Regions from separate parts of the Homo sapiens genome. Here all the other regions are linked to region 3. Evidence: fine-mapped expression QTL. A gene starts in region 3. Each other region holds a variant in brackets. All regions are shown on one strand. Distances are from middle to middle.

Region 1 (4,233 bases), 76 kb before region 3:
AATAAAAAATAAACCTGAGCCACTAGATTCCTTAAAGAACTAAAAGTAGAGCTACTATTTGATCCAGCAATCCTACTACTGGGTATCTAGCCAGAGGAAAAGAAAGTCATCATACAAAAAAGATATTTGCCCACACATGTTTATAGCAGCACAATTCGCAATTGCAAAAATATGGAACTAGCCCAAATGACCATCAATCAACGAGCGGATAAAGAAAAGGTGATATATAGATATATATACACCATGGAATACTACTCGGCCATAAACAGGAATAAAATCGAAGCATTCACAGCAACCTGGATGGCATTTGAGACCATTATTCTAAGTGAAGTAACTCAGGAATGGGAAACCAAACATTCCACACTTACAAGTGATAGGTTAGCTTTGAGGACACAAAGGGATAAAAATGACAGAATGAATTTTGCGGACTCACGGGAAAGGGTGGGAGGGGGTGAGGGATAAAAGACTACACATTGGGTATAATGTAGACTGCTGGGGTGAGGGGTGCACCAAAATCTCAGAAATCACCATTAAAAACTTATTCATGTAACCAAACACCATCTGCTCCCCAAAAACCAATTGAAATAAAAAATAAAATTAATAAATTAATAAAAAAAATTTTTAAAAACCTGAGTCACTGTAACTGAGAATTTAGGAGGTATTAGTTATATTGCAGCATATCACAGTCCACTCTGACTGTTACATCATCAGACTGAACCAAAATCCTGCGGCTGGCCCTCCTTGAGTCTCATCTCTGAATCAATCACTGTAGGCTGAGGGCAGCAGTACTCGATTGGCTCAGACCTGGTTCACTGGCCATGCCTACCTCCAGTGAGGGAGGAGAAGGAGTCACCTCTACCCATGTTGTTGGGCTTGGCATGGCCAAGGGTGGCTTTTCAAGGAAGATGGCATGCTGTTACCAGAAAGCGGGGCAGTTGCTGAAAAGGAGATACGAACACGTGTCCACTTTGAGGGCCTCATAGCCAAATGCTGTGCAAGAGGTTCCTACGCTGAATGGGAGACAAGTTCCCAGGCTGCTGCTGCTTCTCACAAGTCTCTGAAATTTGCCTGGAAAAAGATTCTATTGATTTTTTCTGGGTAACGTGGCTTCTTCCCTCAAAGAAGTCCTTTGGTTGCCGGGAGGCCTGCCAGGCAAGGGGTTGGCTTTCCCCAGGAAGGGTGGAGAAGACTAGGCTGGGGTAGGGAAATCAAGGGGAGAAGGAATGGCCAGCTGCCCCTAGCTGCCCAGGGAGAGGGAGGAGGCCAAGCTTGCTCAGAGCAGTAGTTGGAGACTAGCACGGACACCCCTGTGATCCTTTTTTCTAAAACCCAGATCTTTTGCCTTCACTTCTCTCCTTAAAAACCTTACATGGCTCCTTGCAAACTAAAATCAGCGTTGATTTCTATGCCAGGCACTGAACAACGTATTCCATTTACATTGTTATCCCCCCTAAAACTTCATAAGCAGCTATTAGAGTTTAGAGTTTTAACTCGTGAAAAATATGAGCAAATGAATGCTCAGAATCACAAGTGGCAGAACCAAGGTCACAGAACTCAAAACAGAGCTCCTAGTCTTCACCCACCCATTCAACTTGCCTTAAAAAAAAAAAAAGCTATAGGCCAGGCACAATGGCTCATGCCTGTAATCCCAGCACTTTGGGAGGCCGAGGTGGACAGATCACGAGGTCAGGAGTTCGAGACCAGACTGTCCTATATGGTGAAACCCCGTCTCTACCAAAAAATACAAAAATTAGGTGGGCGTGGTGGTGCTCCCCTATAGTCCC[G/A]GCTACTTGGGAGGCTGAGGCAGGAGAATCACTTGAACCTGAGAGGCAGAGGTTGCAGTGAGCCGAGATTGCGCCACTGCACTCCAGTCTGGCCAACAGAGTGAGATTCCATCTCAAAAAACAAAAAAGCTATAAAAATTGAAAAAACAATCTGATGAATACAAAGAGAAATAAAAGAGATAATTAACCTTTACTTGCCACACTCATTCCAGCTACTCTCCCAAGGAAGCACCATTAACTCTTTGTTGAACATCCATCCTGACCTCTCTCTATGGTCAAATAATATGTTTGAGCATTTATTGAGAGCCAAGAATGTGCCAGGGCATCGGAGGTTATTTTCACAGAGAGTGCTTCTCAGGGATGTACAAATTCCCATGCAATTCCATCTATTTTTTTAATGACCTTAACTAGTCAGAGCACATGGCTGAAGAAACTGACAAGTAAACATTTATTGCTAAAACCCAATAGATTAGGTCCCTTTGCAGCTCCAAATTTCCCAACAATCCACACTTCACCTAGAGGAAAGCCAAAGTCCCTGCATCCACCCAGAGGCCCTACAGAATCTGGTCCCTTGGTCACCTCTCCAACTTGGACCTCACCATCTGCCACCCTCTCCCTTCACTTCCTCCAGTAATATCTCACTTTTTTTCAAAAGGCCCCCAGCACGTCCTGCCTCAGAGCCTTTGCACCTGCTGATCCCTGTCCCTGAAACACCCTTCTCCCAGATACCCCCACGGCTCACATCCTCGCCTCCTTTGAAGTCTTTGCTCAAATGTCTCTTTTCCTTAACTAAACTGGACTCTCCCCATCCCCAACAAACACACGAAACCCATTTTACCTTCTTTGTTTCCTCATAGCATCTATTACTGTCCAACATAGTATACAAACCTTGTTTTATCATCTTCCACCACTCACTAGGATGTAGCTTCAGTGAAGTGAGGAATGTGTGTCTATTTTGTTCCCAGCTAAATCCCCAAGGCCTTAGAACAATGCCTGGCATACAGTGGGTGCTTCATAAATGTTTGTTGAATGACTCCATTAATTTAAAGAAGCCATAGTTCAGGCAGCAACATGGCTCAGACAAGATTGAATACTTTTTAGAGCATGTGAACCTCTTTCTTTTTGGAGCCGGCATCCAGCACTGTGAAACTTGAAAAGATCAGCATGCCAGAAGGAATGCAGGGGTTAGGGGAGCAGTCAAAGGGGACTTTCTCCCAAAGTCATTTTCTGCAGATCCCCTTTCCCAGTTCAGCCCAGGGTTGAGGAGTGACATCCCAAATCAGAGGGACCGCAAATCAGATATCCTCAACCCGTCCCTGAGCGATCTCCTTTCCCCTGGATCTACCAGAAACAGGGGTCCTAGAAAGTTGAAAGTCAAAAGCAGGGGTCTTTGGGACCCAGCTTTCGGGGGCAGCTCAGGCTCATCCTGAGGCTGGTGCTGTGGGCTCAGTTCTCCAGGTATGATTTATGCCTATGGCCGAACTTTATTTTCTACTTTTTTGGATTCTGCTCTGAATTTTTTTCTTCTTGGCCTTTTCCTGGGTCAATGCAGTCTTGTTATTTGATTTACTGTTAACAGTATTGACTGCATAGGATTGAGCCAAGAAATGGAAGAAATTGCTTTTTCTCTCTTTCTATCTCCTGTTTGACAACTCAGTCTTAGCACTGGATTTAGCCAAGCTCTGTGAGAGCCAAGGGAGGCAAAGGAAGTGGGAGTGTTGTGGCTTTGCGGCTGGAAGGTGACCCTGGGAGGAAAATGGCAAGGAATTGTCATTGAAAAGGTCCTGTGGCTGTTTTACCTTCTAAATAAGATAAAGATACAGAGAGGGTGTGTTTGAAGTATGGGCTTCAAAGTCAACTAGCCTTGGGTTTAAGCTGTGTGGCTTTGGGCAAGTCACTTAACCTCTCTGAGCCTCAGTTTCCCCATTCCTAAGACAGATGTAATAATCTCCTCCTCACAGGTGGACTTACAGTGCTCATGCATAAGAAACACTTTGAATCAAACCTGGGTCATTCTAGGAGCACAATTTATTGTACCTGTTACTGTCACCACCATCATCACCATCATCATCATCATCCTCACTCTATTATTGTGTCATCTTTGTTTTGTCCAAATAAAGAAACAAGCATTCATTCAATTCCATGGAAAGGACTTGAGAAGCCTAGAGACTTTTAAGTAGCTGTTTATTGTGGTAAAATATAACAAACATAAAATGTATTGTTTTAACCATGTTTAAGTACACAGATCAGTAGCATTAAGTTCATTATTGTCAACTGTCACCACCATCCAGCTCCAGAATTTTTTCATCTTGCCAAACAGAACTTCTGTACACAGTAAACATGAACCCCCCATTTCCTCCTCCTCACAGCCCCAGGCAACCACTATTCTACTGTCCACCTCTATGACCTTGACTGCTCTAGGCACATCCTATGAATGGAATCATCCAGT
Region 2 (4,233 bases), 57 kb before region 3:
TATCTTGATTACTGATTTTTTTATCACTGCTTCTGTCGCCCCTTAAATTTTGCACCCCAGAACAGTGCCTCATTTGGTTCATTTCCTAGTGTTGGCCCTGCAAAGCAGCACACTAAGCATGCTAAGGCCTGGGAAAACTGAGGAAACTAAACAGACACACAAATTACCCTCCTGGAGCTCTTAGTTTAGCAAACGAGGCAGATAAAAGCAAGTAAACAAGCAGATAAATAGAAAAATTATAAATTACAATAAGTCAAATGGTAGGAGCATGCCACTGAGAAGGGTGATAACTTACTCAGATGAAATGGTCAGCAACAAGCAACACCTTCTCTAAATCTCCAAGCTTCAAAGCCCCCGTCATTTTCCCCAATAGATTCCTAGTGTGCATTAAAGGGTTAACTTAGCAGACTTACGGTGTTCACACCCTGCATGTTCCAAAGAAAGCACCTGACTGACTGCTGGGAGAGTAACTCTAAGCTCTTGCAGTATCCTCCCTAACTCAAGTGTCTTTGTATACCTGGGCACTTGGGCCAAACCAGGCCAGACAATCTATGTAACCATGTGATTATATCACGTTGACTTCTGGAGGGGCTGGTGACCAAGTAATTAAGGTCATTCCATAGGTAACTCCACACCTATGTGACTGACCTCCAATTAAAACCCTGAACACCAAGGCTCAGGTGAGTTTCCATGGTTGGCAACACTCGATACATGTTGTCACCCATCATTGGTGGGAGAATTAAGCATGTTTGTAAGATTCCACTGGGAGAGGACAACTGGAAGTCTCTCCTGGACCCTGCCCTATGCACCTTTTTCTTTGGCAGATTTTAATCTGAATCCTTTTGTTGTAATAAACCATAACCATGAGGATAACAGGTCTTCTGAGTTCTGGGAGTCCTTCTAGTAAAGAACTTGAAATCACTCATGGAACCTGTCAGTGGTCCTGCGGACCCACAATGTAGTGGTTCTGATCTATCACAGCACTCATCACAGTTCATGACTGTGTGTATTAGTCTGTTCTCACGCTGCTAATAAAGACATACTGGAGACTGGGTAGTTTATAAAGGAAAGAGGTTTAATTGACTCTCAGTTCTGCAGGGCTGGGAAGGCCTCAGGAAACTTACAATCATAGTGGAAGGGGACATAAACATGTCCTTCTTCACGGGGTGGCAGGACAAAGAAGTGCCAAGCCAAAGGGGGAAAAGCCCCTTATAAAACCATCAGATCTAGTGAGAACTCACTCACTATCACCAGAACAGCATGAGGGTAAATGCCCCTGTGATTAAATTACCTCCCACCAGGTCCCTCCCACGACACGTGGGGATTATGGGAACTACAATTGAAGATGAGATTTGAGTAGAGACACAGCCAAACAATATCAATGTGTGTGTGTGTGAGGTCATGTGACCATAGACTAGACTTGCAATGTCCAACACAGCTGCCACTGACCAAATGTGGATGCCTAAGTTTAAATTAATTTAAATGAGATAAAGTTAAGACTTCCTCAGTTGCACCAGGCACATTTCAGTTGCAGCAGTCACATTTGGTTTGTGGCTACCACATGGAATGATTCTATCACCCTGAAAGTTACACTGGACTACACTAGACTAGATGGTGAGGCTTCAAGGGCATAGGGACTCCTTGCGACTTATTCATATCTGCGTTTCCAAGACCTCACACACAGTGGACACTCAATAATTACCAGTGAAAACAAACAAAAATATATTAAAAGACTAAATAGTGGAAAGAGCTCTTTTCCCCGCCCTATCTCTAATGCCGTGTGCTCTTGAGCAAGCTACTTGGCCACTCTAGGCTTTAGTTTTCCCAGCTGCAAAGATGTGTGTGTACTCTAGGGGTTTAAAGGTCCCTTCTGGCCATGCATGGTGGCTCACGCCTATAATCCCAACACTCTGGGAGGCTGAAGCAGGTGGATCACGTGAGGTCAAGAATTTGAGACCACCCTGGCCAACATGGTGAAACCCCATCTCTATAAAAATACAAAAATTACCCAGGCATGGTGGCAC[A/G]TGCCTGTAGACCCAGCTTACTCAGGAGGCTGAGGCAGGAGAATGGCTTGAACCCGGGAGGTAGAGGTTTCAGTGAGCTGAGATCGTGCCTCTGCACTCCAGCCTCGGTGACAGAGCAAGACTCTGTCCCAAAAAACTAAATTAAAAAATAAAAATAAAAACAGGTCGGGTGCGGTGGCTCACACCTGTAATCCCAACACTTTGTGAGGCCAAGAGGGGCAGATCACCTGAGGTCAGGAGTTTGAGACCAGCCTGGCCAACATGGTGAAACCTTGTCTCTACTAAAAATACAAAAAAAAATAGTTGGGCGTGGTGGCAAGTGCCTGTAATCCCAGCTACTTGGGAGGCTGAGGCAGGAGAATCGCTTGAACCCAGAAGGGGGGGGTTGCAGTGAGCTGAGATCACACCACTGCACTCCAGCCTGGATGACAAGAGCGAGACTCCATCTCAAAAAAATAAAAATAAAGATAAAATAAATAAGTAATAATAATAATAAAAGTAAAGGTTTCTTCAGGTCATGATATTCAAGACCAGGATCATAACAGAAACCTTGTGGTCTGGTGCCCTTCTCCTTTCACTGTGTGCTAGGTATAGCCTGAGACGGAATGGACCAGCTGTCAAGGGAGCTGAACAAACAGTGAAGGAATTGAGAAACAATCACTGGGTTTGCCCCAGTTGAGGAACTCTTCAAACTGCAAGCTCCATGATGGCATAGATTTGTTTGCCTCTTTGCTCATGGTTGTGTCCACCTCGAGTTCTAGCACAGTGCCTGGCACAAAGTAAGTGCTCAATAAACATTTCTGGAATGAGTGATTGACCCTAAGCACTGAACTTGCAGAGTCCAGAGATTGGCTCAGGGAGCATGTCCTTTGTCACATGTGGCACAACTCTGTGGCACCAGCCCCTGGCAGGATTAGAGCCCTTCACTAATAAGCCAATGGAATCAGCTTGGACCCCACTTGGTGACTTTCTGCTGTCTTGCTGCCTCATGCTCCAGTCCCAAAATGACCTTCAAAACCTATCTCCATCGCTGCACTGCTCAAAATCCTTCAGTGGCTCTCTGCTCTTCCCAGACAAAATAAAGCAACGTTTTTGTTGCATGTGACAAGGCATGAACTATCTTCATTTCTTTTCCATTTGAGAGCTCATGTTTTGCAGCAGGAAATTTGTAGCCAACGTTGGTCTGATACAGTGAGGGTACAACTGCTCACTGATACAGTGAGGTTACCTGGCTTGCGTCCTACACTCATTGCTATGATTTGAATGTTTTGTCTTCTCCAAAATCATGTTGAAACTTAATCCCCAATGCAGCAGTTTTGGGAGGTGGGGCTCCACCCTCATGAATAGATTAATGCCACTATGAAAAGGGTTTGCTAAAGTGTATTCACTCTCTTCTGCTTGTCTGCCATGTGAGGACACAGAGTTCACCCCTCTCTTGCCCTTCCACCTTCTGCCATGTGAAGATGCAGTAAGAAGGCCCACACCAGGTACCAGCATATTGATCTTGGACTTTCCAGCCTCCAGAACTGTAAAAGGATACATTTCTGTTCTTTACAAATTGCTGGGTTTCAGGTATTCTGTTAGAGCAGCAGAAAACGAACTAAGACACTCAATCTCAAGTTCTTCCTTTTGCTCTCCAATCTGGGCCTCCAAATCCTCCATCCAGTGCCCACCAAGTCCCCCGGCTATCACGCCTTGGGCATTGTCTCCTTTGCTATGCATCATACACCTTGATATAGTTTGGATATTTGCCTCTCCCCTGAAAATCTCATGTTGAAATGTAATCCCCAATGTTGGAGGTGGAGCTAGTGGAAGGTGTTTATGTCATAGGGGTGGAAGCCTCATGAATGGCTTGGTGCCCTCCCCATGGTAATGAGTTACCACAAGATCTGGTTGTTTTAAAAGGGACTGACACCTCTTTCCCACTCTCACTTGCTCCATCTTGTGACATGCCTGCTCCCCCTTCACCTTCTGCCATAATTGGAAGCTTCCTGAGGTCCTCCCCAGAAGCAGATGCTGGCGCCATCCCTCCTGTATAGCCTCCAGAATTGTAAGCCAAAATAAACCTCCTTTGTTTATAAATTACGCAACCTTGGGTATTCCTTTATAGCAATGCAAAATGGACTAACACACACCTCTCATACTATTAATAGGTCATCCAAAGAGCTTCTCCCCTAGGAGATGGGGCACAAGTCCACATACTCAGCAG
Region 3 (4,233 bases):
CCAGACTAGCATTCAACGACCCAAGCAACCTGCCTCTAAGGTCTGTAAGCCAGCCTTTGACCTGTCCCTAAACTGATCCAATCCTCCAGGCCCTGCCTTGAACTGTCTTCTCCTGCAGACTCTGACTACCAGACTGAGTCAGCAAAACCTTGAACTAGTGCCACCTTTTACCTGCACCTGGAATCCCTTGCGTATGCTCCCTGCCCCTCTACTCCCAAAGGACGTTCCCTCAGTCTAAAGAGATCAAAAGTCCCTTCCAGAAAAACTCCCGTTTCCTCGGTGCAGCTAAATTGCACAGAAGAGTTTATGCTAGAAGAGCTAAAAGTTAGAACAGGAAGCTCAGATAATTTATACTACTAACATGTAAATGACTGACGGAGTTATAACCCTTCTGAATACTCTGATCTAAAGCTTTATGTCCTAGAACTTCCAAAACACAAAGTCCCCAAAATGAAGACTCTAGGCCCTGGCCTGGGGAAGGGTGACTCTATACAAAATGGCATATGCTCTGTAGACACCAGACAGGTATTTTAAGGTTTATAAGAGCTGCATCTACTTGTGCAAACTACTGTAGCTATAAGGCTATATTTTTTTAAGAACTGAAACCAAATGCAGACTATGAGGAGTGAAGATATGCCCAATGGCCAAAACCTTGCAAGACTGGCTATACTTCTGACCCCACCTTGGTGGGTACCACTGCTCCATCAGGCCTGGTCCACACCAGAGCCCTGGCACCTCCTTTAGAAAACTACCATCTTTACCGACTTCTGATTGTTCTGACTCAGAGCAGCCACCACGCCCAAAATTGTTAGCTATGCTTTTCCCTGTGTTAGTCAAGTTCAAACCTGTGTTAGCCAAGTTCAAACCTGTGTTAGCCAAGTTCAAAGCTGTGTTAGCCCCTTCCCAGCCATGCCGACATCCAAGCTGTTAACAGTAACGAGGAATGTTAGACCTGTTGTTAGTCAGAAAAAAATCCACAAACCATTAGTTTCTGCTGAAAGGAACAGACCAGGAAGGCAGGAGTTAGTCAAGGTGAAGGAAAGGTTAATTAAGAACCGGTCAGGGCCAGGCCAGGAGCCTGGAACCCCCAGACAGGGCCAGGTTGGTTGTTAGTGGTCAGCCCCTGGGGCAGTCAGGGTGAGGCAGGGATTAGCTGGGTGAGAGCAAGAGTTAGCGCAAGGGAGCCAGAGATTAGCCCAAAGAAACCAAGGTGCCTACTGGAGGTGAGGCATGAAATCACCCCCAGGTGTGGCCCCGGCTTAGCGGCTGGCGGGCTCTGGGGGAGGCTGGCTGAGGCAGTGACGTCCGTGGGAACAGAGAGCCAGAGATGCATTCCTGGCCGGCCTGAGCATCTGCGGGAACCCTGTGAGCCCCTGAGGTTCACTTCTTGCTCCCCACTTCTCTCTCCTGCAAACTCCGAGCCCGGGGTAAAGCTGCTTCCCCTCCCCACACCCCTTTTCAACCCGACAACTAACGCCCTCTAGCTTCCGGGAATGGGACGGATCTTTCCCAAGGACTTCCGGTCACGGCCCCACGTCTACTTACGGTGGGGGAAACCGGCCTCTCTCGGCTCCAGAGAGGGGAGACGGCTCTCTAGCTGACTTCCTGTGTGGGAAAGAGTCCTCTCACTGACTTCCGGTGTCAGAAATGTCCCTCTTTCCGGCCTTCAAATATGAGAAATGTTTCTCTGGCCGACTTCCTGTGTACTAAATACTCCACTCAGTGGTTTTTAGCGTAGGAAAGACCCGCTTCATTGACTTCCGGTGTAAGAAAGGCTCCGCTTTCTGACTTCCGGTGTGGGACACGCCCCTCTGCTAATTTCCGGTGAGGGGCACGCCCCCTCCTGCCTTCCTCGTGGGATACGCCCCCCTCGTGACTTCCTGTGCAGGACAGCTTCTATCCCCGTCACTTAACAATGGAGAGGATTCTTCCCCAGCTTCCTTCCAGAGGACACAAAAGCTCAGAGCTCCACAGTCTAGAGTCTAGACCAACAGGCCTCCACACTCACGTCCCAGAGATTTCCCTGGTCCCACCTACTCCCAGTGGCAACCAGACTTCTGCACATAGGAGAGATGTCATACTCAGAGTCCAGCCTCCCACATCCACAGGACCACCTCTTCCTCCTCTGAGTCTTGTTAATAGGGCCATCCCCTGCCTTAGACCTGGCCCAGTGGACTCTGATCTTACAGCCAATATGGGGCAGCAAAGTGGGACATCTGTCTACAGGGCCAGTAGCCCCAGGTCATCTGCTTGCCAAAAGGAGGGGGACCAGCCCCCGGGGGGAGCCCAGAGCTCGGCAGGGCTGGGGTTAGTAAGAAGAGAAAACAGGGTTAGTAGGGGCTGGGTTAGTAAGTCAGAGCACAGCACCAGCGGACAGGGCACCTCAGCAGACACACACAGGAGTCGCTAAGAGAAAAGGAAGAACGCACGCAGGTCCGTTAGTTTGTTAAGGGATGATCGGGGTGCAGTTGAGGCACCCCAGGGGTTAGACGGGTTAGTAATCGAACAAAAGAGCTGCCTACAGAAAAGAAAGCTGAGACGGAGGAAGAATGTGGGGAAGTGACATGGATTCAAAGCCAAGTGTCTTGCCCCAGGCAGAAGGATCTGTGTGCAGAACACCCAGAGAGGCCAGGGCCTAGGCAGCAGACGTGTTCAACCAGGTTTGAGGGGCCTTCCTCCATCCTCATACTTTTTTTTTTTTTAGGTGTCTGCCATGTGCTGAGACCCTTATATTGACGGGAATCCTCACTGCAACCTGTAAGGTATCAGAACTCGCATTCTACCACTGAGGAAACTGAGGTTGAGAGAAGTGAGGTGACTTACTCAAACTCACTCAACAGGAAGTGGCAGAGTTGGTGAGTCTTATTTGCATTCTCTGTCCTGGAACGTGGGTCTGCACAAAGATCCCAGCCCATAGGCAGAGCCTTCTGGAGCCTTGGCTGCCCCCATATCCCAGCCCCTTGAAAGGCCCATGAGCTGCACAGTTAGTAGGATCTGGCTGCGGGGGGGTGGTTAGTAGGGCATGCTCGGGCCTGGTTAGTGGGTTAGTTGGTTGGCAGAAGGCCAGGCACCTCGTCACACGCCACAGCGTCCCGGCTGAGCCCTGGGTTAGTAGGTTAATCACACCATGCAACACTGCCCCGGCCCCTCCAGCTGCAGCTTCAGAGGCCTCCCGCCCCCACCAGCCAGGGAGTGGGGCCTGACCAGGGCAGGGGGTCTAACTCTAAGCCCCCCAGCCCCATCAAAATCAACCCTAACCACATGGACCCTGCCCAAAAGCATGTTGCTTCCCTATTTATTGGCTGTGGGTCTCAGAGCACCCCCTGCAAATATTTCAGCTCCCCTGAAAATGGACCCTACTTGTCCTAGACAGAAACCCCCTGCCTGGTTCTGGTCAGCCCCTTCCCAGAGGGCTGGATCCTGTTACACTCTGACAGACACACGCACACCCGCATCTCTCCGCAAAAGATCTGACAACCGTGCTTAGTAGACATCTCTTCCATCACCGACTGTCAGGCCTCTAGTTTCTCCAACTATTGGCCTGCCCTCCCACCATTAGAAAAAAAAAAAACGCATCAAGCTGGCCTGGCTCCTGGAACCAAGTTGAGACTCCCCCACGCCCACCCGGTCTGCTTCCTTTTCAGCCAATGCTACAAAGCACCTAAGTGTACCCTAATTATGCCATCTTCTATCACTGCTGTACTTTTCCCATAGAAACCCCAGCCTAGCATCTCCCACAGTTCTAAACGATGTTCCATGAGAAAAAGATTCTACGGCCATAAAAGTCAAGGAACACTTCATCCTATGCCCTGTCCCTGAGTATTTGAAATTGCCATTAGCATTTTAAAGGTTCTGATAAGTCCTGCACTACTTCAGTAGTGCAGCGGAATTTGAATTAGAACCTGCTTTTTTTTTTTTTTTTTTTTTTTTAAGGAGCAATGACATTTCCTAGAAGTTACTTTAAGAATTTCCCTAGAGGGTCGGGTATCATCTCAGCCAGATCTTTCTCATCCTTCAAGGCCCTGTTTGGTACAGCTTGCTAGGAAGCTGTTCCAGACTGCAGCAGCCCTCTCTGGGGTCTCTCTACCACTTCCCAGGCACTCAGAACTTGTGCCTCAGTAGACTGTTTTGTGGCACTGTCCCATTCTCTGATTCTCCATGTGAGCTGGTTTTATCCCATCCAGCATGGCTGTGAAATCCTAAAGGTTCAAACCCCAGCCACTCTTCACCTAT

What was found. PIP is the estimated chance that this variant, and not a neighbour inherited with it, causes the effect.
Region 1: its variant is the best candidate, but not a certain one, in a credible set for the expression of MIATNB in whole blood (INTERVAL, PIP 0.84).
Region 2: its variant is the best candidate, but not a certain one, in a credible set for the expression of MIATNB in whole blood (INTERVAL, PIP 0.65).

The regions. Positions count from the first base shown.
Region 1 is chr22:26,745,963-26,750,195 of GRCh38, reverse strand. All of the region lies in intron 2 of MIATNB (MIAT neighbor), which reads right to left. Among named protein-coding and RNA genes, the nearest start is that of MIATNB, 75 kb to the right of the region's middle. The variant G/A (reference allele first, on the strand shown) is at 1,785.
Region 2 is chr22:26,727,149-26,731,381 of GRCh38, reverse strand. The region is part of intron 2 of MIATNB (MIAT neighbor); the gene reads right to left. Among named protein-coding and RNA genes, the nearest start is that of MIATNB, 56 kb to the right of the region's middle. The variant A/G (reference allele first, on the strand shown) is at 2,025.
Region 3 is chr22:26,670,300-26,674,532 of GRCh38, reverse strand. MIATNB (MIAT neighbor) reads right to left here and starts at 1,690. Exons shown (of 6, transcript NR_110543.1): 1 at 1,546-1,690. It overlaps MIAT (myocardial infarction associated transcript), which reads right to left. Exons shown (of 5, transcript NR_033320.3): 5 at 1-4,233.